Homo sapiens: one gene and its partners. The protein of the gene in region 4 interacts with the protein of the main gene of each other region in a biochemical or structural test. Each region holds a gene or a part of one and is shown on either strand. Other genes may lie near its edges. The genes, in order: PEX14, PEX13, PEX5 and PEX7.

Region 1 (7,537 bases), on a different chromosome or scaffold from region 4:
TTTTTTTTTTTTGAGACGGAGTCTCACTCTGTCGCCCAGGCTGGAGTGCCCAGGCGCTATCTGGGCTCACTGCAAGCTCCGCCCCCCGGGTTCACGCCATTCTCCTGCTTCAGCCTCCGGAGTAGCTGGGATTACAGGCGCCCACCACCACGCCCGGCTAATTTTTTTGTATTTTTAGTAGAGACGGGGTTTCACCGTGTTAGCCAGGATGGTCTCGATCTCCTGACCTCGTGATCCGCCCACCTCGGCCTCCCAAAGTGCTGGGATTACAGGTGTGAGCCACCGGACCCGGCCCTCAGGTGTCCTCTTAAATTCTCCTATGTGTAAAAATGTCAAAAAATACACCAAAAAGGCCAGGCACGGTGGCTCACGTCTGTAATCCCAGCACTTTGGGAGGCCGAGGCGGGTGGATCACAAAGCAGGCAATCGAGACCATCCTGGCTAACATGGTGAAAAACCGTCTCTGCTAAAAAATACAAAAAATTAGATGGGCGTGGTGGTGGGCGCCTGTAGTCCCAGCTACTCGGGAGGCTGAAGCAGGAGAATGGAGTGAACCCGGGAGGCGGAGCTTGCAGTGAGCCGAGATAGCGCCACTGCACTCCAGCCTGGGTGACAGAGTGACACTCCGTCTCAAAAAAAAAAAAAAAAAAAGAAAATGCTTTTTGTTCTTTACAGTATCTTCCTTAGCAGCTTCTTTTCTAACCTATGGGAAAGTATAAAAGAAGTGGAAGCTTCTATCAGTAGCTTTTCATATCATTATCATTGGCGGAGAGGCTTTCTCCAGGACAGGTCTGTACTATTCCATTTAGTGATAGCAATGCTTCAAATACTAACGGGACTGGAGTGATCAGAAATAGCCAAGAGACTACAAATATCCTTCAGCGGTGTTGTCTACCACCCAATAGAACAGCAAGGCATGTATGCGCTGGACTGCAGAGAACACCAGCCTCTGTGCCACGCACATCCAGCCACGGCACTGAAGGGGAATTAGAAGTAAAGTAATCTAATGTCAGGAAAAAAAATACATAAATGCTTATATGCAAAATCCATGTTACCAAAGCATTTATAATGCTTTGGCTGTTCATGGGTCTCTGAAAATTTCCATATGATTTCTGTTGGTGACTGAGAGGAAGCAACTGTGCCCTCTGACACACACTGTGACTACATGCCTGGGGCTGGCTCACACATGTAACCTGTAAAACTTCTTTGGGTAAGCGATTTGTTGCTACTGGCTAATAAGACTTGTAAGTCACTTAAATATATCATCTTATTTGAGAGAACCAACAACCCTTTGAAGCAGGGCTATAAATATTATACCCAATTTGCTGATGAGAAAACTGAGGGTTGAGAGCTGGTTAAGTGCAAGGCCAAGCAGCTGGTAAAGGTATGGGGCCGGGCTCGGAACTTCCGTCGGCTCCGTCACTTACAACTCACGTTCCTTGTCTGGACCTCCAGAAATGGTCAGTAGCAGCTCCCTCTTTCCTGCATAGGTTCCTGCCAGAGCGGACGGTGGAAACCCCTCCCCACACCGCCGTGGGCTCAGCTGGGGGTTCTTGTACCATCTGAGTGTGGCGGAGTGGCAGGAACCCAGTGGGGTCCGTTTGGTCCAACATCGAAGTGATTTCAGGCAAGAGACCTAAGCCGAGTCTGGCTTAATTTGCACATTGCTTCCTGGCTGTCTTCCCACCACCGTGGAGTCTCACACGAGATTAATTACGCTCAAGCGCCTTAAATCTGTAAATCGCTATGCCCACTCGGACCGTTTCTGTCCCAAGCCTCCACCCGAGATACAAGAATCCCCAAGTCGCCTCTCCTGACCCCGCCTCGCCCCCGCCGGACGTCCTCACCCGGCCCTGGCTCCCCCACACCCTCGCCCGGGGTCCCGAGCCAACCCTTGCTCCTCAGGTCTTCGAGGCAGGAGGCGGCCACGCCGTGCTGTTCGCGGCTGTAGTTGCGGCGCAGCAGACACGGCTTTAGAGTCCGGATCTCGCCAGATTCTGGTACCCCGGCGTCCCCGGTCACCTCCATCCTCCACAAGGTGGGACCTGCCCACCTTCGAGAAGTCGCGGGAGGCCGGAGCGGCGGTCCTTCTACTCGACCCCCTTCCGCAGCCTGCCGGGAGATGTAGTTCGTTCCGCAGCAAATCACACGTGAGACCAGGGCACGCCGGGAAATGTAGTTCTAGTTGCCGCTAATCACGTGTGGCGTCGAAGCATGCCGGAAACTGTAGTCTCTGGGTTTAAAGCCGCTTTCGTTCTATCGCGCGATTCAGCCTAGGAGTTGTTTTTAACTTTTAGGAGCTGCATTCGCGCGTTCAAATATAAGGCCAATAGAGACTTATTTTGCATGACGATGCACACGCATGTATACTGTATTGAATTTTTAGAGCATTCCTATTCGCATATGAGATGCATAATGCTAATACAGACACCCGCATGTTTCCACCCATTCTATTTCCTGCTTCAACTGTGCAAATTAGTTTGGGGTCTCAGAACAAAACGCTTAAATAAATATAGTAAGCATTAAAGTCTCAAATGCATCGGAGAGGAAAGGGGAAATGCGACTCGGCACTGTTGGAGATTGTTCAGATGCCTCTTGACAACATATTCATCTTTGTTTTAATACTGCTACTATGGAAAAGTTTGTTTTTTTCCTCCTGAAAAATAAACATCTAAGATTAAAAGAATAGTAATAAAAATGATCAAAAAGTTCCTCTCTTAAAAGAGGGCATTTTATGTAAACTAGAAGTAATTATCTGCTCATATTTATTCATTCGGGGGACACTTTCCTTCCTTGTTTCTTTTTTCTTTTTTTGAGACAGCGTTTCGCTCTGTCTCCCAGGCTGGAGTGCAGTGGCGCGATGATGGCTCACTGCAGTTTTGATCTCCTGGGCTCAAGCAATCCTCCCACCTCATATTTTGTTTATAAAAACGTGGGCAAGGGCCCCGGGGGCGGTGGCTCACCCCTGTAATCTCAGCACTTTAGGAGGCCGAGGCGGACAGATGATCTGAGGTCAGTAGTTTGAGACCAGCCTGGCCAGCATGGTGAAACCCTATCTCTACTAAAAATACAAAAATTAGCCGGGCGTGATGGCGCACGCCTGTAGTCCCAGCTCTTGGGAGGCTGAGGCAGGTGAATCGCTTGAACCCGGGAGGCGGAGGTTGCAGTCGGCCCAGATCGCACCATTGCACTCCAGCCTGGGCGTCAGGAGCAAGACTTCGTCTCAAGCAAAAACAAAAACAAAAGCAAAAACAAACAAAAAAAACGTGGGAGAGGAAATTGGATATTATCTCAAGAAAAGTTTAGACATTTAAAACAGCGTTTAGTAGGAGGAATTATTCATTAAGTCATCCCTTTTAAGCAGTCTATATTGATCAAAACACAACTATAATAGGAGCTGGCGGTTAACTCTAATGTATGTATCCTTTTTCATATAATTTCATTTTTTATTTTCTTATCTTATTTTTAGACAAGGTCTCGCTCTGTCGCCCAGGCTGGAGTGCAGTGGCATAATCATAGTTCACTGCAGCCTCAACCTCCTGGGCTCAAGGGATCCTCCTGCCTTGGCCTCCTAAAGTGTTGGGATTACAGGTGTGAGCCACTGCTCCCGTCCAATATTTAATTTAAAATCTAACAATTAAAAAAATCTAACAATTCAACCAGTGTAAAATAATGACGTTTTGTAGAAGCCTCTTCTCTTCAAAATGCCCCCTTTTATGTTCTCCCAATAGACCTGCACACTTATCCGAGTCCTATCCCCATAATACTGTAATTGTAAGTGTGTTTGGCCTGGGCGTGGGAGTAGGGATTGAGTCTTGAATGTTTTTATTTCAAGGCCTACCAAAGTCCCTAGCATATAGTAGGCACTCAATGAATGGAACTGAACTGATGTCTAAAAATTAATTTCCAAGTTTCTTCGCATTCATCCATTGGCAAGTCCCTAAATGTGCCCATGGCACTGTGGGGATGGGCAGAGATTAACTCAATAAGAATAATATGGGCCGGGCGCTGTGGCTCACTTCTGTAATCCCAACACTTTGGGAGGCCGAGGCGGGCAGATCACCTGAGGTCGGGAGTTCGAGAGCAGCCTGACCAACATGGAGAAACTCCATCTCTACTAAAAATACAATGTTAGCCGGGCATGGTGGCGCATGCCTGCAATCCCAGCTACTCGGGAGGCTGAGGCAGGAGAATCACTTGAAACCGGGAGGCTGAGGTTGCGGTGAGCCGATATCGCGCCATTGCACTCCAGCCTAGGCAACAAGTGCGAAACTCCGTCTCAAAAAAAAAAAGCAAAACCAGAATAATACACATATAACAACGCAAAGAAGATATAGACTTGGGATCTTCCTGGAAAGCAGAGTCTTAACGGAAACTATGCAAGGTGACCCGGACACCCGGGCTCCACCCCTCTGCCCCAGTCCCCTACATCGACAGGCTCTGTTCCGGCTACCTTAGTCTGGGCGGGAGGGCGAGAGCGAGGGCGCCTGGGAGAAACCTCGCCCAGCGGCGGTTGATTAGTCAGGCCTCAGAAAGATGGCGTCCTCGGAGCAGGCAGAGCAGCCGAGCCAGGTAAGGGGAGTGGGACTGCCCCGCTGTGCGGCGGAGACCCCGGCTGGAGGGGGCGCTCAGCATACGGCTGGGAGCCGGGTAGGGACCCCGAGTCTCCGAAGCTGGGGACCCCGACCTCTTGCCCCCTCCTGAGCCCCGCCCCTCCCCAGGTCCTCCCCACCCGGCCCCTCCCCCCGGTGACCCCTCTTTGACCACATTCCGGAGCCCGGGCTCTGGTGTTTGGCTGTGCCCCCGGGTCCCCACTTCCCGCCTGCCAGCACCTCTGGTCCCACTTGAGCTTGTTGGGGAGGGTGACGGGACCCTTGGGAAGTCCCCAGCCTTGAGCTGCGAGGGCTTGAGAAGGAGAGGATAGATCGATCGTTCCCGGCTGTCCCCTCCGGGGAGGGGCCTGTTTCCATTAGGGTTCCCACTCCCTCACGGCCTCAGCCTCCTGGAGCGGCTGCCAGCCTCTTCATCTGTGGTCACCTTTGCGCTTCTCTCGTCAAGTTGGATAGTCAGAAATAATCTAGTCGAGCCCTCTCAGTGCGTTGATAGGAAAGGGACGCACTGTGACTAACAGACGCCACCAAGCTTTTGGCTGAGGACCCATCCTCGCTTCCCTGGGTTTGGTTTTGTTGGCCGAGGGCTCCGCTCTAGCTTTTCACCTGCAGATTCAGACAAATCCCACTCCAATAAGGGGACCATAAGGACCAGCGTTGACGCCTGTGCCTCTGCGGCCGGGAGGCAGTGGATGATAAGGTCTCCGAAGGGGTTTATAGTCCAAAGGTGGGGTAGGGTGGGGTGAGGAGAAAAGGGCTAAGAGACATCTTACATTTAACTGCCTGTGTGGTGTCATGTTGAGCACAAATTACATCTATTATCTCGTTTAGTGTTCACTACAACCTTTATGAAGTGCAGGCTACTAACCTCCATTTCACAGAAATGAATACTAAGGGTTTGTGACATGCCCCAAATCGTGTGCTCTGTTGAGCCTGTATTGAACCTGTGTGACTCCACTAGTCATCCATACATTTTTGAGTTTAGTTAGGATTAGAATGAGGAAGAAGAAAATAGTTTCAACTTGGGGCCTCATTCCTCCTCTCCCATCTCCTTGAAGCACCTCTAAGAGTTTTCAGCAACTTACTAGTATTTCACTTCCTTCAGAGGCAGAAGACCACCGCTTAGTGTTTCTTACTGTCTTATTCTGCACGTCTGTTACAAGAATTGAACTTAAAGGAGTTGGTGTGTTCCCCCATACCAGTTTCTATTAGCAGTGTGAATGATTCAGGAAGAAGATGTCTTGATTGTAAAACATGGGAGATAACAAGGACTGATTCTGGCCTTCTCACTGTCAGGTGTTCTGGAGTTTGGCAAGTGTCTCGAGAGGAGGGCCTCTCCTTTCTTGCCTTACCACATTTAGTTTGCTGAAATACTAAGGCATCTTGGGGTCTGGGTTTCTCTGAATTGTTTTGTGTTAGGAATGCCCACAGGCTGGGATTGAAGGGTGTCCTCAGTTCCTGATTCTTTTTTCTTTCTTAAGACGGAGTCTCTCTCTGTCGCCCATGCTGGAGTGCATTGGCGCAATCTCGGCTCACTGCCTCCCGGGTTCGAGCAATTCTCCTGCCTCAGCCTCCCAAGTAGCTGGGACTACGGGTGCCTGCCACCACACCTGACTAATTTTTGTAATTTTAGTAGCGATAGGTTTCACCATGTTGGCCAGGCTGGTCTTAAACTCCTGACTTCAAGTGATCTGCCCGCCTCAGCCTCCCAAAGTGCTGAGATTATATGCGTGAGCCACCGTGCCCGGCTCTGTTCCTGATTCTTATAGGACATTTAATTTGCCAGTGCTGTAAACAGTACTAAAAATCTTGCCACTTGGAGCCACTGTTATGCCCAAGGATTCTTTTGGTTTTGCAAGTTTGCCCTCTCTGTATATGTATTTAATAGAAAAGGATCTAAGGTCCTTTAAGGGGGCATGGCCATCACTTGTTTGATTTTCAGCTCTGCTTCTCCTTTGCCCTCCTTTCCAAAGCTGGTGGAGGTAGGATTGCCACAGAACATGCTGGCAGCCTGGGGGAAAAACTTGAACTTTTCTTTTTTTTTTTTTGAGACAGAGTCTCGCTGTGTCACCCAGGCTGGAGTGCAGTGGCGCGATCTCTGCTCACTGCAACCTCCGCCTCCTGGGTTCACGCCATTCTCCTGCCTCAGCCTCCCTAGTAGCTGGGACTACAGGCGCCCGCCACCATGCCCAGCTAATTTTTTGTGTTTTTAGTAGAGATGGGGTTTCACCGTGTTAGCCAGGATGGTCTTGATCTCCTGACCTCATGATCCGCCCACCTCAGCCTCCCAAAGTGCTGGGATTACAGGCGTGAGCTGCAGTGCCTGGCCAAAACTTGAACTTTTCATAACAGACTCTATGGCTATCTAACAAGAAGCAAATGCACGCTTTTTGAATGAACCAATGCTCTTCAGCAATTGCCTGTTTCATTTTCAAGTCTTGATCAATCCAGTTTCCCATTTCTCCGATTAAAGCAGAGTAGGATTGAAAGGATTGTTTAGCTAATTCCCCCACGCCTTGTTGTGTAGGGTTAGAACTGTGGGGCTGAGCCAGTATTCTGTCTTTCACAGAAAGTTTGTTGGTTAGCCTTGTCATATCAATCTCTGGTTTCCAGCTATTAAAGGTGAATAACCTTCTCTTCCCTTGAGAGGCAGTGTAGAATAGCGGTTACAAGTATAGGCTCTAAAGCCAGACCCACTGGCTTGGAATCCTAACTCCACTAACTTACCAGCAATGTCATCTCGGACAGATCTACTTAATTTTTCTAGACTTAATTTCTCCATGTGCAAAACAGGGAAAATACTAGGACCTATCTCACAGAGTTGCTCTGAGGACTAAATGAGTTATTTATTTATTTATTTATTTTTGAGACCGAGTCTCACTCTGTTGACCAGGCTGGAGTGCAGTGGCGCGATCTCGGCTTACTGC
Region 2 (7,024 bases), on a different chromosome or scaffold from region 4:
GTTTTTTGTTTTGCTTTGTCTTTTCAGAAGTGAGGAGATCTGAGAATGTTTTTAGGCTAAAAGAAAGGAGTCAGTAGAGAAGGAGCAGTTATAAATAAGGGAAAGATAGGAGTTAAATGATGAAGAAGCTACTATAGGAAGTAAGAGAGGGTGTGATCTTACGGAACCTGGCAGGTAAAAAGGAAGGACGGTTTTTTATCTGAGTCAAAAGGAGAGGAAATCGGTAATGATACAAAGAGATTTTTGAGGAGAAGCAAAATTGAGGTCCTATTACTTTAGCTCTTAGAGCAGGGGTTGGCAAACCGTGGCTTGTGGGCCAAATCTGGCCTGCTCCTATTTTTGTACAGCTCACAAGCTAAAAATGGTTTTTATACTTTTCAGTTGCTGGGAAATTAAAAGAATGTTTTAAAAATTGAAATAATCTGTGATGTGAAAATTATATAGAATTCAAATTTCATTAATAAAGTTGTATTGGAGCACAGCCACACTTATTTCCATACATATTGTTATGGCTGCTTTTCCACTGTAACAGTGGAATTGAATAGTTTGCACAGAGACTATATGTGAAATTCCGATGGCTTCACTTTTGCTCTGCCCACTACAAATTTCAGTAACTTAGTTATAACTTGATAGCATGATGAGTAATATATACATTGTTATACTACAGTGGGTTTTTTTTGAAATTATGAATTCATATATGACACACAAGAAAAAAGTGTACTTTGAGTGTCATATTTTCAAGGCACAGTATAGTATGAATTATTTCGTTATTGAATTAGATAGTAAAAAAAACTGTATTTATTATACAATGACACTATAGCTATGTTAAATGGCTATACTACATATCAGCATTACCAGATTGAGCACTCATCACAGAAAATCAACAGTCAAAAAAATTAGAAAATTTAAAATGGAATTCTCATCACAGCAGAATTTCCGCATCAAAATAAAAATAAAATAAAATGAGGCTGCAACCAAAATAAGTTCCTGAGAGGTTCATATGTTACCCAAGCAAGGAAACCTGTTTACTCATGGTCATTGCAACAGCCAAAAAAAATATGTCCAGAGAAAGTAAACTTGTTTAAGATTATTAGCTTCTCAGTGAGAACAGTTCCTTGAAGAGTTGATGGCATTTTGAACAACATGGCCAACTTAAAATAAGACAAATGATTTGAATGTTTTTCCTTGGCTCATCATGACCCAATGGATATTAATACTTGCTAAATCTGTTGGCTAAATGTTGTCATCATGGGAGTGAGTTCATTATCTCGAGAGTGAGTTTGTTATACAAGCTAGTTTGGCCCTCTTACTCTCTCGCATGCACTCTTTTGCCATGTGATGCCTCCTGCCATGTTATGACACAACAAGAAGGCCCTTACTAAATGCCCCTTGATCTCGGATTTCCTAGCCCCCAGAACTGTGAGCAAATAAACTTCCATTGTTTACAAATTACCCAGTCTGTAGTATTCTGTTAAAGTAGCATAAAACAAAGACAGGCTGGGTTCGGTGGCTCATGCCTGTAATCCTGGCACTTTGGTAGGCCGAGGCGGGCGGATCATGAGGTCAGGAGATGGAGACCATCCTGGCTAACGTGGTGAAACCCTGTCTCTACTAAAAAAAAAAAAAAAAAAAACAAATTTTCAAAAAAAAGACAGTACTGCTTAGTTGTTTATTTGAGAAATCAATGGTGAATTGGAAATGACTGAAGAATTAGCCTCTATGAATAGTCATGGTTCAACTACAGACAAGAACATTTTCAAAGAAGGTGAAAACACTGATTCCGTACAACCTGAATCTGCTAAGATGTGTTGCACCTGATAATGGTGAAAATTCTAGGTGGAGCAGGAAAAGGCCTAGTTGGACAAAAGTTACAAAGGTTTTGAAAATACAGTTTTTTTGTTTATGGTTATTCATTGTATTATCAGCAGCCACATTGCAGAAAATATTTGAATTTATCATGTGTTATTGAACTAGTAGTGTCAAGGTAAAGTTTATTCACTCTTGTGACATAATCATTGTCAGTTTTGTGAATTTTTGTCAGATACAGAAGCTGAAGATCCCGACTTGCCCTACCGCATGGCAATTCAATGGCAGAACAAGGTTTAAGTTTTATTTTATTTTTTTTGAGATTGAGGCCAAGAATGAAATTTTTCTGAACAGAACTCCTTTTCAGCTATTGTTATTAAACCCATTCAGCTTTGGAAATCACCTTTTACTGCAGACTTAGTTAAATTCTGAGTTCTTTTTGGAGACAGGGTCTTGCTTTGTCAGCCAGGCTGGAGTGCAGTAGCGTGATCATAGCTCACTGCAACCTCACACTCTTGGGCTCACATGATTCTCCCACCTCAGCTTCCCAAGTAGCTAGTACTAGAAGTACACACCACCACACCTGGCCAATTTATTTATTTATTGTGGAGACGAGATTCCACTGTGTTGCTCAGGCTGGTCTTGAACTCCTGGCCTCAAGCAATCCTGCCTTAGCGTCCCAAAGTGCTGAGTGAGATTACAGGCATGAACCACCATGTCCAGCCCAGACTTAGTTATATTCTTTGTTGTTGTTTTCTTTTTGAGACAGGGCCTCACTCAGTTGCCCAGGCTGGAGTGCGTAGTGCAGTCTCGGCTCACTGCAACCTCTGCCTCCCAGGTTCAAGCGATTCAAGCTGAGACTATAGGCGCGTGCCACCACATCTGCCTAATTTTGTTTATTTTTTTGTAGAAACAAGGTTTCCCTATGTTGCCCAGGTTGGTCTTGAACTGCTGGACTCATGCAATTTCCCCTGTCTCAGCCTCTCAAAGTACTGGGATTATAGGCATGCGCCACCATGCCCGGCTAATTTTGTATTTTTAGTAGTAATGGAGTTTCTCCATGTTGGTCAGGCTGGTCTCAAACTCCCGACCTCAGGAGATCCACCCGCCTCGGCCTCCCAAAGTGCTGAGATTACAGGTGTGAACCACCACGCCTGACCTATATTCTTAAGTAATTCAAACGGAAACCACAAAGCAGAACAGTGCTTATATGCAAAACTTATGCTGGAGTAAAGTTTTGACAACACCTAATACAGTTTGACTCACAAGTAATGTCACACTGCTTTATAGACCTCTCAGACTGTCAGAAGTTAACACAAGCAGTATCTCCATTCCCACGCAAGTTGGCAGCAGATACATTTTCCAAGCTTAAGCTATTAATACAATGCCAGAGCATTTTTTGGACCTCCATGCAAGCACAAAGGAAATTTCCATATTTCAAAATCCATTTAACTATGCAATTGAGGAACTTCCACTTAATCTTCATTTGGAAGTGATTAATCTGCAATGTAATAACATGGTAAAAGGCAAATATCAAGAGAAGAATTTAACAGAATTATATTCTGGCCTATTACTCTCCCAACTAATAAATATGCTCAATTAAAACCACATACTCATAGACTCATATTAGGATTTGACATTACCTATCTGTGTGAAAAGGCATTTTCAAAAATGCAGTACCTCAAATTTTATTACAAATTAGAATTAGCAAGTGAATATTTATAATTGATTTCCAATTAAGTGAAATATCCTTCCCCCAAAATATTTCATTCTTCTAAGTAACTTCCAAATAGACCTGTATTACCAAAAAGAAACATGGTTATTATATTTTTAATCTTGTCAATAAATTTATGGAAATTTTGTTTCCTCTTTTTATAAAAGTAATTGCCCAATATCCTGTTTTGCCTCTTGGCTTTCAAAGTCTAAAATATTAACTATCTGACCCTTTTCAGAAAAAATTTGCCAACCCCTGGCTCACGGTAAGAGAGCGGGAAGTTGGAGCTTAAAGAAAGGAAAAAGTTCATAATAGGTATCTTTAGTGGATCTATTGTTGATTTAACATAGTATTCATTATAGTTTTTACTTGGGAGGGGAGGACTTTTCTCTTGGCAAATTTATGCAGTTTGCAAGCCATAGCCAGTGAAATATCTGCATTTTTCTTTTGTAAATTTTATTAACCTAATTTTAATTTGGCTTATAGACAGCATCAACTGGGCAAGTGGTGAGGATGACCATGTAGTTGCCAGAGCAGAATATGATTTTGCTGCCGTATCTGAAGAAGAAATTTCTTTCCGGGCTGGTGATATGCTGAACTTAGCTCTCAAAGGTAATAAATTATGAATAAGTTGGAATTATCTGTAAATTTTGATATTCATAAATGCAGTATTAAAAACTACAACAAAGGATCTTGTTCATTGTTAGTTAACTTAGAGATAGTTACTAGAACTTCTTTTTCATGTCAATTTAGAGCTTCCAAATCTGGAGGAGTCAGGAAGAAATGCCCCAGCAGAGTTATTCGAATACTATTTCACTGAGATAAGGAAAGGCTTTGTTTATATAGGCTTTTCTAAACTCAAAATACTTGAATTTCAAACTGTTAATCCCCACACAAAAACGTGATGTCAGTAACTAAACATAACAAATCTAATAAAGCAAAGGAATTATGTAACATCATCTAAGCATTGCTGTTAGTCCTTGTGGACTGGTGTTGCTTCTTTATTACTTCAGCAGTGTTTACCTCAGAAATTTCATCATAAGTATTTTAGGAAATAGTGTCATGAAGTATTATAGAACCCCAGCAAGAGATTTATACGCATCTCGGGTTTATTTTTGGACCAAGTCACTGATACTTTTTAATGACTCTAGGCAAAATGACCTTTTCCTTCACCCTTCCTGAGTAATGATTATCAGGATTTTTATGGATTTTTTTAAATATGTGTATTTATGGGGATTCAAGTTTATTGCAAAAAGTGATGTTTTGTTGATAAAGGTACTAATAACAATAACATGTTATTTATTGAGTACTTACTATGTACAAGGTACTGTATTTTACATATTTCATTTAAGCCTTACAATAATACGGTGAAGTGGTACTATTATTATCCTGTCATTGTTTTACCCTTGAAGAAACTGAGACTCAGAATAAGTAAATTGTCCAGTATCACAAAGCAAAGGTGCAATAGAACTGGACTATGAATCTAGGTTTGTCTAACTTGAGACCTTGTGCTTTTAACAACTCTGGCTGTTTTTTCATGGAAGGATCTATTTATGGAAACTTCACCCTTTTTTTGGTTTTAGTCATTTTTTGCAGGGAAGAAATACTTTCAATGTTCAAATCATTACTATGTAAATAATTGAAAATTTTGGATGAGATTACTAAATCTTTGCCTCATCCCTTTTACAAAAAACCTAGACTTAAGCGAGGTGCAGTGTGTGCACCTATAGTCCCACCTACTCAAGGGGCTGAGGCAGAAGGATCACTTGAGGCCAGGAGTTTGAGGCTGTAGTACATTGTAATCACACCTGTGGAACAGCACCACTGCACTCCAGCCTGGGCAACGTAGTGTAACCTTGTCTCAAGAAAAAAAAAACAAACCTCTAGACTTTTAGGTATTCTATTTGTATTTTTCTTTCTTTTTTTTTTGTTTTGAGACAGAGTCTAGCTCTGTTGCTCAGGCTCGAGTGCAGTGGCACGATCTTGGCTCACTGCAACCTCCGCCTCCCGGGTTCAAGTGATTCTCCTGCCTCAGCCTCCTGAGTTGCTGGGACTACAGGCACATGCCACCACGACCAGCTAGTTTTTGTATTTTTAGTAGAGACAGGCGTTCACCATGTTGGTCAGGCTGGTCTCGAACTCCTGACCTTGTGATCCGCCCGACTTGGCCTCCCAAGGTGCTGGAATTACAGATGTGTACCACCACGCTGGGCCTATTCATATTTTTCTTATAGGGAAAATAGCAATTTACTATTTTGGATTTCAAACGAATGATTTTTTAAAGATTTGTTGTTAGAGACAGGAACAACACAGATAATTTTAATTAGAGGTCATGTGGTTTCTTTCAGTTACATAACACTTCAGAAAAATTTTATATTTCATTATTCTTCAATGAATAGTGCCTCTTAACACTAGCTTGCTTCTTGGCTTTCCTCCATTGCTCAAGAAAAGTATGTTTGGGCCTTTGGAACAAAATCGGTCGTAGACATGGTAAATTTGTTTTTTCCTGTTATTATAGAGCATTAAACATTAAAAAGTCTTATATTGTGCCTAAATTATAATGTTGAACTAAAATTGTAACAGTTAAGCAGCTTTTTAAAGATATAGATAAAATAGGAAAATACAATAGAAAATTGAGTACATTAAATAATCTTTCTTTAAGCTTAGAGTATTGCCTTTATTTATCATATGGCTAGAAATAACAAAGGTCTTCAATTTTTTGCCCATCTTGGATTGAAATTAATATTTACTGTCTTCAGGATTGTTTATTACAATCACATGAAACGAATTTTATATTTTTGCCAAAAGTAGGCTAAGAAAGCTGAGTGCATTAAAGGTATATCTTTTCTATACTTATTCCTAACTTACCCAGTTGAGAAGGAATAAGATATTCATTTTTTAGACTCCAGTTTAAAATATGAAAGACATTGATGTTAGTTTTCAGTTTTGAGAGAACTAAATCTCCCTACTCTATGAATGGACCAACTGATAATAAACTTTATGTTCTTCAAGGTGGAAGGAAATATTTAGTAAGTATAAAATAAAAATAGAAGAATGGACCCTAGAACTGTTAAGCCTACTCAGCATTTGATTTTGAATATATATGCATGTACTATTTGTTATCTACTATGTAAGCATAACAGATTTTCCTGAATGTGATATTTTACCATTACTATTCTGTTGGACCTCCAAAGTATATTGTAATTACAAGACTGTCTTTTTTTTCCATCAGAACAACAACCCAAAGTGCGTGGTTGGCTTCTGGCTAGCCTTGATGGCCAAACAACAGGACTTATACCTGCGAATTATGTCAAAATTCTTGGCAAAAGAAAAGGTAGGAAAACGGTGGAATCAAGTAAAGTTTCCAAGCAGCAACAATCTTTTACCAACCCAACACTAACTAAAGGAGCCACGGTTGCTGATTCTTTGGATGAACAGGAAGCTGCCTTTGAATCTGTTTTTGTTGAAACTAATAAGGTTCCAGTTGCACCTGATTCCATTGGG
Region 3 (6,904 bases), on a different chromosome or scaffold from region 4:
ACCATGATGATGTGACTCCCCGAGATCCTGGAACTTGGTAACTTTCTCTATGTGTATCTCTTGTTATTCTTGATATCTTAAACAGGAAAAAGGCTAACTTTTGAGAGCAATCAGGAAGAGGAAAGCTGAAGAGACTGCCCTTCCCACCATGTACCTGATTAGATAGGCTTAGGGCAAGAAGAATCAATCATAAAAGATGCAGGAGCAATGGATGCTTTCAAAGAGGAAAAATTAGGCTGAAACCTTTAAGTCTGTAGCAAAGCAAGAAAGAAGATAAATTGCAGGCCTGACAGTATAGCATCACAGTTAAGGCCACAGGGTCAGGAATCATTCAAATCCAGGATCAAATCCCAACTCTACCACTGACAAAGCTGTGTAACCTTGGGCACACTTCACCTCTAAGCCTCAATTTTCTTATCTTTAAACTAGGTCTAAAAACAGTAACTACCTCTAGGGTTCTCATGGAGAGTAAGTAGATAATGCATTCAAAGCATGTAACACAAGGCCTAGAACGTAACTATTGTTATTAATTTTTATTATCATCATCATGGTATGGTCTTTACCTTCTAAAGCCATACACTTCAGGCACTGGAACTTCACAATAACACTCTGAAGGCCCCAATTCTGTTCCAAATAACTTAAGGCCAGAATCCCAGGTGCTGTAGTGAATACTCTCTTCCTCGGCAACACTGCCATCCATCCAATCTGTAGATCCTCTCCACTAAACCACAGTGATAAAGTAAAAAGGCCAACCAAACTCTTCGTTCTCTCTATCCAAAATCTCTTATCCAGTACAAACCCAGTCCTCTCTTTAATATACATTACATTCCGTTATCACCTAAGGGAAATTGAGTTCAGTACCCTACCCCTCTAGAAATGAGTCATGAGACCAGAAAAATCGTAATCACACTATAACGTGAACAGGGGAAGGGTATAGAATTCTGTCCCATAGAAGCCAATATAGATTTTCCCATAACAAGTTTCACCTGTAACTTCAGAGATGAATTCTTGGGACCAGTCAGTCTCATTATAATCCTGAGTTACATCCACAGCATCTCCAGCTGCAAGAAACTCCTGGGCCCAGTTCTCAGACAAGGCCAAGTCTGCCACACCAGGGGCTTAAAAGAGAGAGAGAGAAAACTAAGAAAGAATACATACATACCATTCCATCATGCCTAAAGAACCCTGAATCCACGTGAAAACACTCTGTTACTTTTGTCTCCTTCTGCATCTCAGGTCCCCAATGCCAGCAGCATCCAATGGAACCCCCTTCCTTGGCCCTGGCTACATGGAAAACGATCTCCCCTCCCACTAGACTCTGGACTCACCTCTCTGGGGAGCCTGGCGGAAGTTTGACTGCTCAATCTGCTGCATCTCAGCCAGGAGGTCATCCATCTTGAAGGTCTGAGGGGCACGGGACACAAGGGGTGCATTCTGGTCCTGCAGGAATTCAGCCACCAACTGCCAGAAGGGAAATGATGAAATGAACCCATAGGCTTGGGAGGCCCCAGCAAGAGGCAGGACCCACTGGAGGGGGATCCCAATGTTAGATACAAGGAAAGGAAAACACAGAAACTGGAGACACATAAAGAGAAACTGTCTTTCCATAGATTTAGAAGGACGAAAAAATACATTTAAAAACAAGCAGGCATTCTCATTCGGTCAGGAAAGCCCAAAAATTGAAATACGGGTGAACTAAGTTTAAAGGTAAAAACACAGTGGGCAAGAGAAAAATGGGACAGAAAAGAGACTGGTCTATTTACCTCATCTTCAGAAGCTACTCCCAAAGGCTTGGAGGCCTAAGAGAGAAAGACAGAGATGTACAATGACGCAGTTCCTCTAAAATCAGGGGTTGATGAAGCCCATAGGCATCTGAGCCTCGGCTTCTTCATCTATAAAATGGTTGCATTTATTTAAAGGTGCACAGGGTTTTCTAGTGTTTATAAACGCTCAGTAAGTGGTAACTACTATGATTTGCAACACAATAGAGAAAGCAGTTATACCAAGATGTGCAAACAGCCCCTCCACCTCAGACCACCACCACCTGGGCTTTCCACCTCAAGAACACTCACTGCCTCAGAGGCTGCACCTGGGCTTTCCACCTCAAGAACACTCACTGCCTCAGAGGCTGCACCTGGGCTTTCCACCTCAAGAACACTCACTGCCTCAGAGGCCGGGGCTCCGGGGGGCCAGGGGCCAGGCCTCAATCCCTCCTGCCGAAGGGCCTTGTCCTGGGTGAAGTGCCCGGCGAGCTTCATGAGCGGGTTGGCACCCCCGCATTCGGCCTCCACCAGCTCCCGCATTGCCATGGTGACCGCCAGCTCTCTGATGGACACAGGAGGTTTGGAACTGAGGTACCCAAGCCAGACCCTTCTCACATCCACAACTCTGCCCGTATCTGAGGAAGGCACACAGGCGTCTGCCCCACACTGGCCGCCCTCCACCCCAGTGCTTTTGCTGCGACCCCCACCTCTGCCAGGAGTTCGAGGGAGGTCGGTACTCTCTCCTGCCGCCCCCCTCAAAGGCCACCGCTTCCAGCCTGCGCCTCTGCAGAGGCCTCCGCGACTACGGTCCCATGGGCTGGGGGCCAGCAGCTGCCTCCACAAAGGGGCCTGGACCCCGGGGGACCACGGGGACGCTTCAACAACCAGGCTGGACGGCGACACTGCCCGAAGAAGGGACAGTGGGAAAACAGCCCGACCATACCTAGCCCCGCGCAGCCCCAGCACGCGGTGAGCACGGCAGAGGAGCATTCCCTCCCCTTAAGTCACCGGAGCCCTTCCCCCGGCTCGGCCCGGTCCCTCCCGCGCTCCCCACCGCCCATCTCCCCGGCCCTGCTGCCGCTCCAGCCCCGCCCCTGGGACCCGCGAGGCCACCGCAAGGGTGGGGAGGGCCCAGGGACGCGGCCCCGGGCCCCCTCGGGGTCAGGCGCTCACCGCGGAGCGCCGCGCCGCACGACCCGCCGGGGCACCAGGTGCTGGCTTGGGGGAGGGGAGAAGAGGGGGCGGGGAGCCAGGGGGCGGGGCTCAGGCTTAAAGGGGCCGTGACCGCCCCGCAGCGGCCCAGGCCCAGCGGAAGCTGTCTGAAAAGGCGGGGCCTTAAGACTGCGACGCAGCCTGACGGGAAGAGCCGTGAGTCTTAAAGGGGAAGAGCACCTTAGAGAGCGGGTCTTGGAGAGTCGCCTTTAGGAGCGCTCGAAAAGGCCACGGGCCCTAGGATTTGTTTGACGGAAAGCTCAAAGAAGAGTGGAGCTAAGAAGGGCTTCCCAGGCTCTGGGGGAAAGCCGAAGACGCGAGATCCTAGGCTCAGTCGATCCTGCCTCTTCCCTTGGGCGCATTGTGACCTAAGGGGATTCAGTGCCCTTTCTGAGCCTCAGTTTTCCCCTCTAAAATGGGGCTGGCTAATGTTCCCAAGCCCAAGAAAGAGAAAAGCCCTAACACCAGGGGCTGGGGAGTCCAGTCCGAAGCCTTCTTCAGCCTCCTAGGCCTGCCCCGCTTCCAAATAACCCCTAGCGGGGTAGCGTCACTGTCTCCATGGAGACAGGGGCCCGCCCCCGCCTTAATCCCTCTCCACCTCTGCATAATGGGGAAAATAGCACTGCATGATGACAAATTCCGGAGACCAAAATAGGGTCCAACGCATCCTGAGACCTCGAGCTGGTAACGTACAGGGAAGGTGAACAGTGAGTCAGCCCTTCCTTCCGCTAAGTCAACATAGTGGCCTTATTCCCATCACTCCAGGCTGGGAAAGGACAAACATACAAGAAATGCTTTTAATCACGGAATAAGACTAAGCCTCAAGCCCCCTCATCTGCCAAAGAGTGTGCTCTGCTGTCAAACCTCAAAGTCATTGAGAAACAAACCCTGATAATCTCACCCAGCTTCAAGACCAAGGGAGTCCTAGTGTCATGGAGAAGAGCAAGGAGGGGCCCAGGGCTGCCGGTAAATGACCAAGGGCAATAATGCCAGACGAACAGAAGTACCATCCCAGCCCAGGGTGCATGAGCGGAGGCAGGCAGGCAGCAGGTGGCGCCATGGGCCGGGCTTGTTTCCTGGCTGTTCTGCAGATTTCAGAGGTGGAGGCCTCAGGGGGCCACAGGGAATGTCTGTGTAAACTCATCCCTGGGAAGACAGAGAAGCTGCTCTGACACCTCAGGGGAACAGAATGGCAGGGGACAGACCATAAGACTGTGCAACATTTCTCCTTTTCCTTGCCTTTTCGCCCTCTTTCAGAGGCCCCACTTCTACACCCCGTTTTCTTCCGGAGCACACAAATCCCAGCCCTTGGGCGTCCCCTGTTCTCAGGCTGCCATCGTGAGGAAAATACCTGATAAACTAAACCACACAAGGATGAAGAGATGCCCTCCAGAAGGTGCATACTTTTAAAAAGAGGACCCCCTAGAGAGAGCAATGTTTAAAGGAACCCATCTGATACAGTAGAATTTCAGAACCTCAAGGCAACCAGAGTTTCCCAGTACCACTTAAACATCACAACACACATAACCTTCTGCTCTGCTAGGAGTTTATCAACTGATTAGCCGTAACTCACTTTGTGTGCAGATCTTGGAAGAATGCTAATAATAATAACTGATGTTTACTAAAATCCAGGTGTTGTGTAAAACACTTTATGTATCTCAATGTTTTTAATCTTCTTAATACCCCTATTAAATAGATATTAGTAGACCCACTTTACAGATAAGACTTGTGCAAAATCAGATGGCTAGGAAGTCAAAATTTAATCCAGGCATAACTCTAGGCACCTACTTCCCAGTCTTAGAGAAGACTTACTGATAAACCATGGAGATCTTTGATCTCCTAGGCCATAGAATCATTCACAGAACTTGGTCCACAGTCCCAGCCAGAGGTGCTGGGAAAGGGCTAATAGAGTGACTTTGGTGTTTAATATTTAATTTACTGAAGCTCTAGATTTGAAACCCTAGATTTTGTTAATCCAGGTTCAACTTTAAATTCTTGTTCTATTCATAAAAGTAGTAATTTTTATAAAATAAAAATAATTTTTACTTATTCTTTAATGTTTGACGAATTCAAGTTCAATAGATGTTTAGACACACATTGCATTGACTGTGTGCCAGGCATTGTTTCAAGCACTTTTCAACTATTGATTTATTTAATCCTCCTAATAGTTATTAATAATAACTATTATCCCCCATTTTACAAAAGAGGAAACTGAGGCACAGAGAAGTTGAGTGACTTGCACAAGGTCATACTAATAAATAGCAGAGCTGGGATTTGAACCCAGACCACGGTCACCAAACTGTAAAGGGCTCAATGGTCAATATTTTTGGCTTTGTAGTCCATGCAGTCTCTGTCACAGTGACTCAACCCTGCTGTTGGAGCACAAAAGCAGACATAGGCCACACCTAAACAAATGAGCATGGCTGTATTCCAGTAATGCTTTTTATGGGGACTGAAATGTGAATTTTATATAATTTTCATGTTACAAAATATTCTTCTTCTTTTGATGTTTTTCCAACTATTTAAAAATGTCAAATACTTATTTGTTTTGAGACAGTCTTGTTCTGTCACCCAGGCCGGCATGCAGTGGCGCAATCTCGGCTCACTACAACCTCTACCTCCTAGGTTCAAGTGATTCTCCTGCCTCAGCCTCCCGAGTAGCTGGGACTACAGGCACATGCCACCATGCCCAGCTAATTTTCGTATTTTTAGTAGAGATGGGGTTTCACCATGTTGGTCAGGCTGGTCTCAAACACCTGACTTCAGATGATCCACCCCCCTTGGCCTCCTGAAGTGCTGGGATTACAGATGTGACCCACCGTGCCCAGCCAAAAAACGTCAAATACTTCTTAGCTTGCAGACTATGGAAAAACAGGGACCAGGCCATAGTTTGTGGATCTTTGACCTACACAGTCTTATTCCAGAGTCCATGCTCTTAAACACTGTGCTGTACTTCTGCTTTTTAGAAATAAAAGACAAATTTCCTAATATTTTTAACTATGTGACATTTAATATTCATATTTTAAATACCTGACAGGGCAAACAACACTACTAGGCAAAACCTTTCTGAACTTTTATTCAACCCTTTAATAAATCAAACTTATAAACATTTATTCAATTTTCTTAATCCTCTTAAAGTCATATGTCTAAAACTCTTTTCTTTTCTTTTTTTTTTTTTTGCTGTTGCAAGATTTAATAGAGTGAAAACAGAGCTCCCATACAACGGGAGGGGACCCAAAGGGGGTTGCCACTGCCAGCTCAAATGCCTGGGTTTATATCCCGATCATTGTCCCTCCCCCTGTGCTCTCAGGCAATAGATGATTGACTATTTCTTTACCTCCTGCTTTTAGCCTAATTGGTGTTTTAGTGAGCTCTCTTTACTACCTGATTGGTCAGGTGTGAGCTGAGTTACAAGCACCCTGTTTAAATGTGAGTACAGTCATCTTCCCCAGCTGGGCTTAGGAATGCTTAGTTGGCCTAGGAAATCCAGCTAGTCCTGTCTCTCAGTCCCCCCTCTCAACAGGAAAACCCAAGTGCTGTTGGGGAGGTTGGCCAACGACTGCTTTAACTGCTTCCTGCTGAATTGGGGCATAGTAGGTCATGCAGTTGAGATTTCCTCAGCAGGGGTGCCTTTGATGTCATCAACATCAGAGCATGGCCTAGCAGGTCCAGGGGTCTGTAGTAGATCTTAGTCATGGACTGCATCTGGGGCTCCATTTGAAGAGCCATTTGTAGTTTTTACAGCTTTGATTCTGGAAGAGACAAACTTAACAAGGAGGTTAAAGATACAGGGATTGAAATGTATGGCCTGAAGTGCAGGGGGAGGCACATCCAACAGTTAGTAGGGTTTGGGGATAAAGATAAGCCAGTATTGGCTGGATACGTTCCTCACTGAGGGCCCTGGTGCCTTTGGATAATTTTAGCCCTAA
Region 4 (7,322 bases):
AAGATGGCGCCACTGTACTCCAGCCTGGGTGACAGAGCCAGACTCTGTGCATAAAAAAAAAAAATTTCTTTTAGAGACGGGGTCCTCCTATGTTGCCCACGAGGCTGGTCTTGAACTCCCGGCCTCAAGTGATCCTTCTGCCTCAGACTTGGGAATAGCTGGGACTACAGGTGCGCACCACCACAATCAGCTAAAAATAAGCTTCATCCTATGCAAACGCCAAGGTTCCTTTTATACTGTATATTAAAACATTAATCAAAGAGTCAAAACCTAATTCTATTAAGGCTTTAATAGCAACAATATATACCTTTAATAATTTCAGCCCCCTTACCTTCTAAAAAGCCTTAGCCCAGCTTCATCTGGATCCAATATTAGTAGGGTTCCACAGCCTAAAGAGAAAAAAAATCAAGGTCATCCCTTTGAACCTGCCAGGGTAACATCGAAAGTCAAGGAGTTATCAAGTAATTGATACCTGATTTTAATACCACAAATTTTTCCCCAAAGTATTTGGGACCTTGAATACCAAATGGTCAGGTGATCAATTTCTCCCTAAAGTTTTTGGGACATGAATACCAAATGTGTTCTCTATTTCTGTTTTTCCATATTGTACTTCAGTTACTAAATATTCAACTTCCCATTGCACCTATGATTGGAATTCAGACATGGACCTAACAGGGGGGTGAAATACTTAAGGGCCTACTCTGTAGCCAGACAAGGCACCAGAGACACAAACCTTCCAAGTTGGTGTTATCATTCCTACTGACAGATGAGAAACCTCTGGCTTACAGACCCCAGGGACTGCACTCCTCACCAGTAAATCTAAAACACATCTCACACAGGATTTTAAAACAAAATATGAATGCGGAGATACTTGGTGGGATTTACTACATAACTGGTGGTAATAAAGTGCTGAAAACAGTATTAATATGTTACCTGTCAAAGATTATTTTACCAAAGGGCCATTGTATTTTAAAAGTTATGTTTACTTTTTATAGAGACCAAGGGGGAAAATCTCTTCTATTTAAACATGACTGAATTTTTTTTTTTAAATACCAATTCCCTTTAAAGAGTTTTTGCATAAGATTTTAAGTAGCATTACAGGCCAGTCACAGTGGCTCACGCCTGTAATCCCAGCACTTTGGGAGGCCAAGGCAGGAAGATCGCTTGCACCCAGTTCCGGACCAGCCTGGGCAACATAGTGATACCCTGTCTCTACAAAAATAAAAAATCAAAAATTAGCCAGGTGTGATGGTACATGCCTGTGGTCCCAGCTACTGGTGAGGTTGAGACAGGAGGATCATATGAGCCCAGGAGGTGGAGGCTACGGTGAGCTGTGATTGCACCACTCTACTCAACCTAGGCAACAGGGTGAGACCCTGTCTCTAAAGAGAAAAAGAAAAAAGAAAAAAAGAAAACTACTACCATTATAGACTCATGAGTCTTCAGTCTAACTGGTGGGCCATGTAAATCTGAATGTGCAAGCACTAAGAGCTAATAATGAAAATAAATCAAGTATTTCTCTGAGTTTTAGAAGTAACATTTTTTTCTGCTGTAGGACAAAACAAAAAAATACAATAGACCACTGACATTATGAAATGAGTTTTTGCATCTCGCTTCAGTGCGTATAATAGCTAGGACATGAATTAAGGCAAAAGCGAGAATGAACCTACGCCTTTTCATCTAGTCCACGGACTAGATGGACTCTTTTTTTTGAGACGGAGTTTTGCTCTTCTTGCCCAGGCTGGAGTGCAATGGCACGATCTCGGCTCACCGCAACCTCTGCCTCCTGGGTTCAAACTATTCTCTTACCTCAGCCTCCCGAGTAGCTGGGATTACAGGCATGCGCCACCACGCCCGGCTAATTTTGTATTTTCAGTAGAGATGGGGTTTCTCCATGTTGGTCAGGCTGGTCTGGAACTCCCGAACTCAAGTGATCCGCCCACCTCGGCCTCCCAAAGTGCTGGGATTACAGACGTGAGCCACCGCACGGCGCTTGGCCTTTTTTCTTTTTAAGACGGGGTCTCAGTCTGTCACCCAGGCTGGAGTGGAGTGATGTGATCTCAGCTCACTGGGCTGGGGCAGAGTGATGTGATCTCAGCTCATTGTAGCCTCAACATCCCGGGCTCAAGCGATCCTCCCGCCTCAGCCTCCTGAGCAGCTTTAACCACAGGCTGAGCCAATGCGCGCGACGGGAGACAATTAACTGGAGTCTGTAACACCTACTTGCGAATGTGTGCATTCCTCGTTAGACAACTACAGGTAAGAACTGAACTTGATATATTTCATGGTGTCACCCGTGGGACTCCAGGCGTCCATTCAGGAGCATCGTCCTTAGGAAGGCCAGCCCGCAGGTCGCAGCTCAGTGCTCGAATGCAGACTGGGAATTGTGGGCCAACTCGCGAGCCCTGGGTCGGTTCTGGCTCAGACCGTCTTCCCCGTACTGCTGTGCCGAGCGGACCGATCCAAGGGACCGCGCAGGCTCCCCCGGCTCTCCCTACGGGGACGTGTGCCTGGGCGTGTGACACGTGGCGGAGGCAGCGCGGTCTCAAGGAACAAGGACACGGGCTACTAGGCTACACGTATATGCACTTGCACACAACTGGAAGATCGACTCCTGCTTCAGACCAACTCCTCGCACTCGGCAAAGAAAGGAGAAGCGCCGACCAGCGCCTCTTCTGCCCCCTGGCGTGGACCCGCGGAACCGTCTACGCTCAGAGGGGCTTTCCCTCGAGCGCGAGGAACTGGAGCCCGGCTGGCCCCCGCCTCCGCCTCCGCCCCCCGGCCCCAGCTGCGCGGCGCCGCCTCACCCGCGATGCCGTAGTGCTGCGCGGTGGCGCAGGCCAGGCGGCCCGGCAGGTACGGGGAGAACTCGGCGGCGTAGCCGTGGCGTCCCGGCGTCCGCAGCATCCGCGCCGCTCCACCGCACACCGCACTCATCCCGCCCGCCGCCCCCGGCCCTCGCTGCCCCGGCCGCGGAAGCCGTTCCGAGTCGGAGGCACACTGGCGCGGTTAGAGAGACCAGGCAGACCGGACGGAAGTGTGGGCCCCGTGCCCTGTGTTTGAGATTCTGATTGGTCCGCACAGGAAAGGGCGTTGACTCCGACGGAGACCATTTTTGTTTTGGGTGAATCCAAACTGAATTGCGCCTGCTGCAAAGATACAGATCTATCAGGGGAGTGATCCAGGGTTAGGTATTATTAATAATTACGACAGCTTTTGTCGTTGCATCTCAGCCTCCTCTGCGGTGCTATCTGGTTTTTATTTCATTGAGCGTTTGGAAGACTGGCATCAGGAACTTTTCCTGATGATTATAAAGTGAGAAAAGTTACAGCCGACTCTGAAACCACGCAGCGCGTCCAAAATTGCGTGCTGCGTTGCCCAAGGAAACTGGAAGCAATGAGAACTTAAGTCCGTGGAGTCACTGCGGTCTTTAGGAATAAGAGCGTGGGCTGGTGGGCTACTTTCACACTGTAACTGGAAAAGATGAAACACCAACTCCAAACCAACTCCCCATGCTTGGCAAGTGAGAAAAAGGAGCTGGCCAGTTCTAATGAAGCTAAGCAAAAAAGCAGCACATCATCATATACAACTTTTTTAAAAAGTATTACTATACATGTATATATTGTATGGTAATAAGTGCTCAGATGCTGGTGCTCATTCATTCATTTATTGCCAGGCATATACTATGTGGAGAATGACCAAATATAATTTATCTGCCAAACCAAGATACTTTTGAGAGTAAAGAGGGTGTAATTATTAAGCCAGGTCAACAGGCACAAACCAAGTCGTATGATCATCTTAACCATATACCAAGAACAGTACTAGGCATTTGGGATTCAAAATAATGGGATATGGTCCATGGCCTCAAGAGATTAGAGAAGAAGACTAAAAGAGAAGTCATGTAATTAGTTAAGTGTAATCAAAATACTGTAGAGGCTATGATAAATTTATATGGGGTATTTTTAAAAGGTGATTGTCCGTGCCAGAGGTATGGAAATTGCAGGAAAGGCTGCAGAAGAGAGATAAGTCTTTATGGTGATTGCACACAGATGAGTAGGTTTTCTTTAGGTAGACAAGAAGATGGAGATCTTTGTAGGAGCAGGAATAACATGAGCAACCCAGGAGATTTAAACCAGCATGATCCATAGGGGGTCGTGGCTGCCAGGACTCAGCCTGGCCAGATGGAAGGGATACGGTGAAAAAAATATTGGGTGGGGAGACTGTAGAGTGTTTTACTGGGGCTAGATCATGAAGAGTCTTATATACCATACTAAGAGAATTGGATTTCTACTGTAAACAGTGAAAAACAGTGGAAGTTTTCTAATGTGAGAAATTAAATGACCAAGGTTTTATTTTAAAAAGTCCTGCAACACTAATATGGAGGATAGAGTTTGGAGATGGGGAGGCCAGTTAAAAGACTTTTGCAGGCCGGGCGCGGTGGTTCACACCTGTAATCCCAGCACACTAGGAGGCCGAGGCAGGCGGATCACTTGAGGATCCAGACCAGTGTGGCCTCTATTATTTTGGATTTTTATCATATGTAGTCACTGGAATGTATGCTGCATGAGGGCAGAAATTTTTGCTTGTTATGTTCGCTGTTGTATCCCAAGGACCTGGTATTTAAGCATTCAGGAAATGTTGAGTGAATGCAGCCTAATACAGTGCCTAAATGATCAGTGTGTTTTTCGTAATACTACAAAAAGTAACCTGGAAACATTCTGGAGTTTATTGAAATGCTAAATAGGCGTTAATAAAATATCAAAGTAAGCAAACATGAAGCAGCTGGGACCTTGGCAAAGAGTTGTATATAAAGAGTTATCCAATCTAAGCTAAAAATAGTGTGGTATCTCTGGGAGGGAGAAAGGCTGGTTCCAGCTGGGGTAAACTATTTACAGTGACCTTGGACATACACACACACACACAAACTGAGCTATTACCTGCTCCTTACCTAACCATACATGATTATAGCATTGTAAAATATTTCATCCCACCTGTGAAGCTTTCTAAAATATAAACAACTAAACATATAAAAAATAAACCATACTCTTACACTAGATTTTGAGCATCTCGAAGTAATGTCCAAGTCTAATTTGTTTGTGTCTCCAGTACCTTGAAGAATGTCCAATATATAGTAAACACTGCACAAATGTTTGACAACTTGAGGTGAACTGGAAAATTAAGGAAAAGGAACATGAAATGCTCCTTAGATTCTCCTTGTCCCCTGCCCTTGCTCCACACCCCTTCCTCCACCCATGCTTTACTAAGTGGAGTCCAAGTTTGCTAGGGGTATGGATAGAATTGGAGTTAAGAATTGCCTGGAAGGGACGGGCATGGTGGCTTATGCCTGTAATCCCAACAATTTGGGAGGCCAAGGCAGGCAGAACACTTGAGGTCAAGAGTTTGAGACCAGCCTGGCCAACATGGTGAAACCCTGTCTCTACTAAAAATACAAAAATTAGCCAGGCATGGTGGTGGGCACCTGTAATCCCAGCTACTCTGGAGAAGGCTGAGGCAGGAGAATCGCTTGAACCCTGGAGGCAGAGGTTGCAGTGAACTGAGATCACACCACTGCACTTCAGCCTGAGCGACAGAGCGAGACTCCGTCTCAAAAAAAAAAAAAAAAAAAAGACTCTTTTTGTTGTCTTCCACCTGTTCTTGTCATTGTTTAGGAGTACTTGGTATTTCCCAACTGAGACAGAAACCATTTTTTATGAGCATTCATTACACCTCAGAGTTGTGTAACTTCTAAACTTGGCCAACTCTGTGGAAGACCATTTAACTCTGTGGAAGGCCTAATAATGTAGGCAGACATGGCTAGATGTCAGGTTTCTATAAGGATCTACAATTATATTTAGATTGTTTTGTTTTATAACTGCTATGGTGACCTCACAAAGACTCTAACTGCAAATATTTACCAACCCACATCATTTTTAAAACTAGTCTATCTTTCCCATGGAGAGAGACCAGAAGTAAAATAATTGAAATACGTGGTCTTTCTACCCAGGTGAATCATTATCCTAGGTAAATCGGCAGGCTGCATATGGTAGTTATGGGAAATAATTCCAAGAAAGGATGGATAATTTCATTGTTCCTTTTAGCTCTGCACAGCATTGTGCTGGGTACCTAGTTAGCCTTTAATCAATGTTTGCCAGAGGGTTAATGTAATCATCATCCAAGAACTTTAAGCACTATCTTCAAATATATGATGGATACTTGGACTGATGCACTTTAGAGACCCTTAAAGCTCTGAGAGTCTCTAATTATGGGCTAATTGTCTACCTTGCTCGTTTTATATCATTCATCACTTATTATTTTAGTTATACTTTCTTGTTAAAAATTTTAGAATCTGTGGTAATGTAAAATGGTGCAGCTGATATGGGAAATAGGATAGCAATTGCTTAAAAAATTAAACATAGAATTACCATATAATCTCGCAATTCCACTTTTGGGTATATATCTAAAAGAATTAAATGCAGCAATTCAAACAGATATTCGTACACTCCTGTTTGCAGCAGTATTACTCATAATAGCCAAAAGGTGAAAGCAACCCAAGTGTCCATTGGCAGATGCTATGGTCTGAAAGTTTCTGTCCCCCCCAAATTCATATGTTGAAATTTAATCACCAATGTGATGGTTTTAAGAGGTGGGGTGTTTGAGATGTAATTAGGTCATAAATGAGATGATTACCTTTATAAAAGAGGCTGGAGAGAGAGCCCTCTTACCCCTTCCACCACGTGAGGACACGGCAAGAAGTGAACATCTATGAACCAGAAAGTGGGACCTCACCAGACATAAACCTGCTGCTGATGGCTTGATGATGGACTTTCCAGCCTCTAAAACAGTGATAAATATATTTCTGTTGTTTATAAGGTACCAAGTTTATGATAGTTTGTTATAGAAGCCTGAACCAACTAAGACAATAAATGAACACATAAAGAGAATGTAATATATGCATATGGTGGAATATTATTCTTCCCTAAAGAGGAGGGATATTCTTACATGGATGAACTTTGAAGACATTATGCTAAGTGAAATAAACCAGGCATAAAAGGACAAATACCGTATGATTCCACTTATATGAGGTACATAGTGTAGTCAAATTGATACAGACAGAAAATAGAATGGTGGTTGCCAGGGGCAAGGGGAAGTGGGGAATGGAGAGTTATTGTGTGACAGGCATGGAGTTTCAGTTTAGGAAGATGAAGTTCTGGAAATAGATGACAGTGATTGTATAACAATGTGCATATACTCAACATCACTGAAATGTCTGCTTAAAAATGGTTAAAATGGTAAATTGTATGGTATGTATATTTTGCTACAAT

Evidence for each region.
Region 1: the proteins of PEX7 (region 4) and PEX14 form a complex in vitro, tested with the Homo sapiens proteins (one study listed by BioGRID).
Region 2: the proteins of PEX7 (region 4) and PEX13 form a complex in vitro, tested with the Homo sapiens proteins (one study listed by BioGRID).
Region 3: the proteins of PEX7 (region 4) and PEX5 form a complex in vitro, tested with the Homo sapiens proteins (3 studies listed by BioGRID).

Annotation. Positions count from the first base shown.
Region 1 is NC_000001.11:10,470,431-10,477,967, forward strand, and holds the start of PEX14 (peroxisomal membrane protein PEX14), read left to right. Parts: upstream 1-4,519; 5' UTR 4,520-4,536; coding exon 4,537-4,572; coding exon of another isoform or gene 4,573-4,650; intron 4,651-7,537. Other genes in the region: DFFA (DNA fragmentation factor subunit alpha), read right to left, coding at 1,893-2,028. UniProt on the Homo sapiens protein: Component of the PEX13-PEX14 docking complex, a translocon channel that specifically mediates the import of peroxisomal cargo proteins bound to PEX5 receptor.
Region 2 is NC_000002.12:61,041,720-61,048,743, forward strand, and holds part of PEX13 (peroxisome biogenesis factor 13), read left to right. Parts: intron 1-4,006; coding exon 4,007-4,132; intron 4,133-6,752; coding exon 6,753-7,024. UniProt on the Homo sapiens protein: Component of the PEX13-PEX14 docking complex, a translocon channel that specifically mediates the import of peroxisomal cargo proteins bound to PEX5 receptor.
Region 3 is NC_000012.12:7,185,783-7,192,686, reverse strand, and holds the start of PEX5 (peroxisomal biogenesis factor 5), read right to left. Parts: upstream 3,002-6,904; 5' UTR 2,937-3,001; exon of another isoform or gene 2,754-2,936; coding exon of another isoform or gene 2,707-2,753; exon of another isoform or gene 2,326-2,706; coding exon of another isoform or gene 2,310-2,325; coding exon 2,163-2,309; coding exon of another isoform or gene 2,073-2,162; intron 1,800-2,072; coding exon 1,764-1,799; intron 1,462-1,763; coding exon 1,329-1,461; intron 1,119-1,328; coding exon 987-1,118; intron 1-986.
Region 4 is NC_000006.12:136,818,281-136,825,602, reverse strand, and holds the start of PEX7 (peroxisomal biogenesis factor 7), read right to left. Parts: upstream 3,012-7,322; 5' UTR 2,938-3,011; coding exon 2,808-2,937; intron 2,706-2,807; exon of another isoform or gene 2,240-2,705; coding exon of another isoform or gene 2,224-2,239; intron 390-2,223; coding exon 332-389; intron 1-331. UniProt on the Homo sapiens protein: Receptor required for the peroxisomal import of proteins containing a C-terminal PTS2-type peroxisomal targeting signal. Specifically binds to cargo proteins containing a PTS2 peroxisomal targeting signal in the cytosol.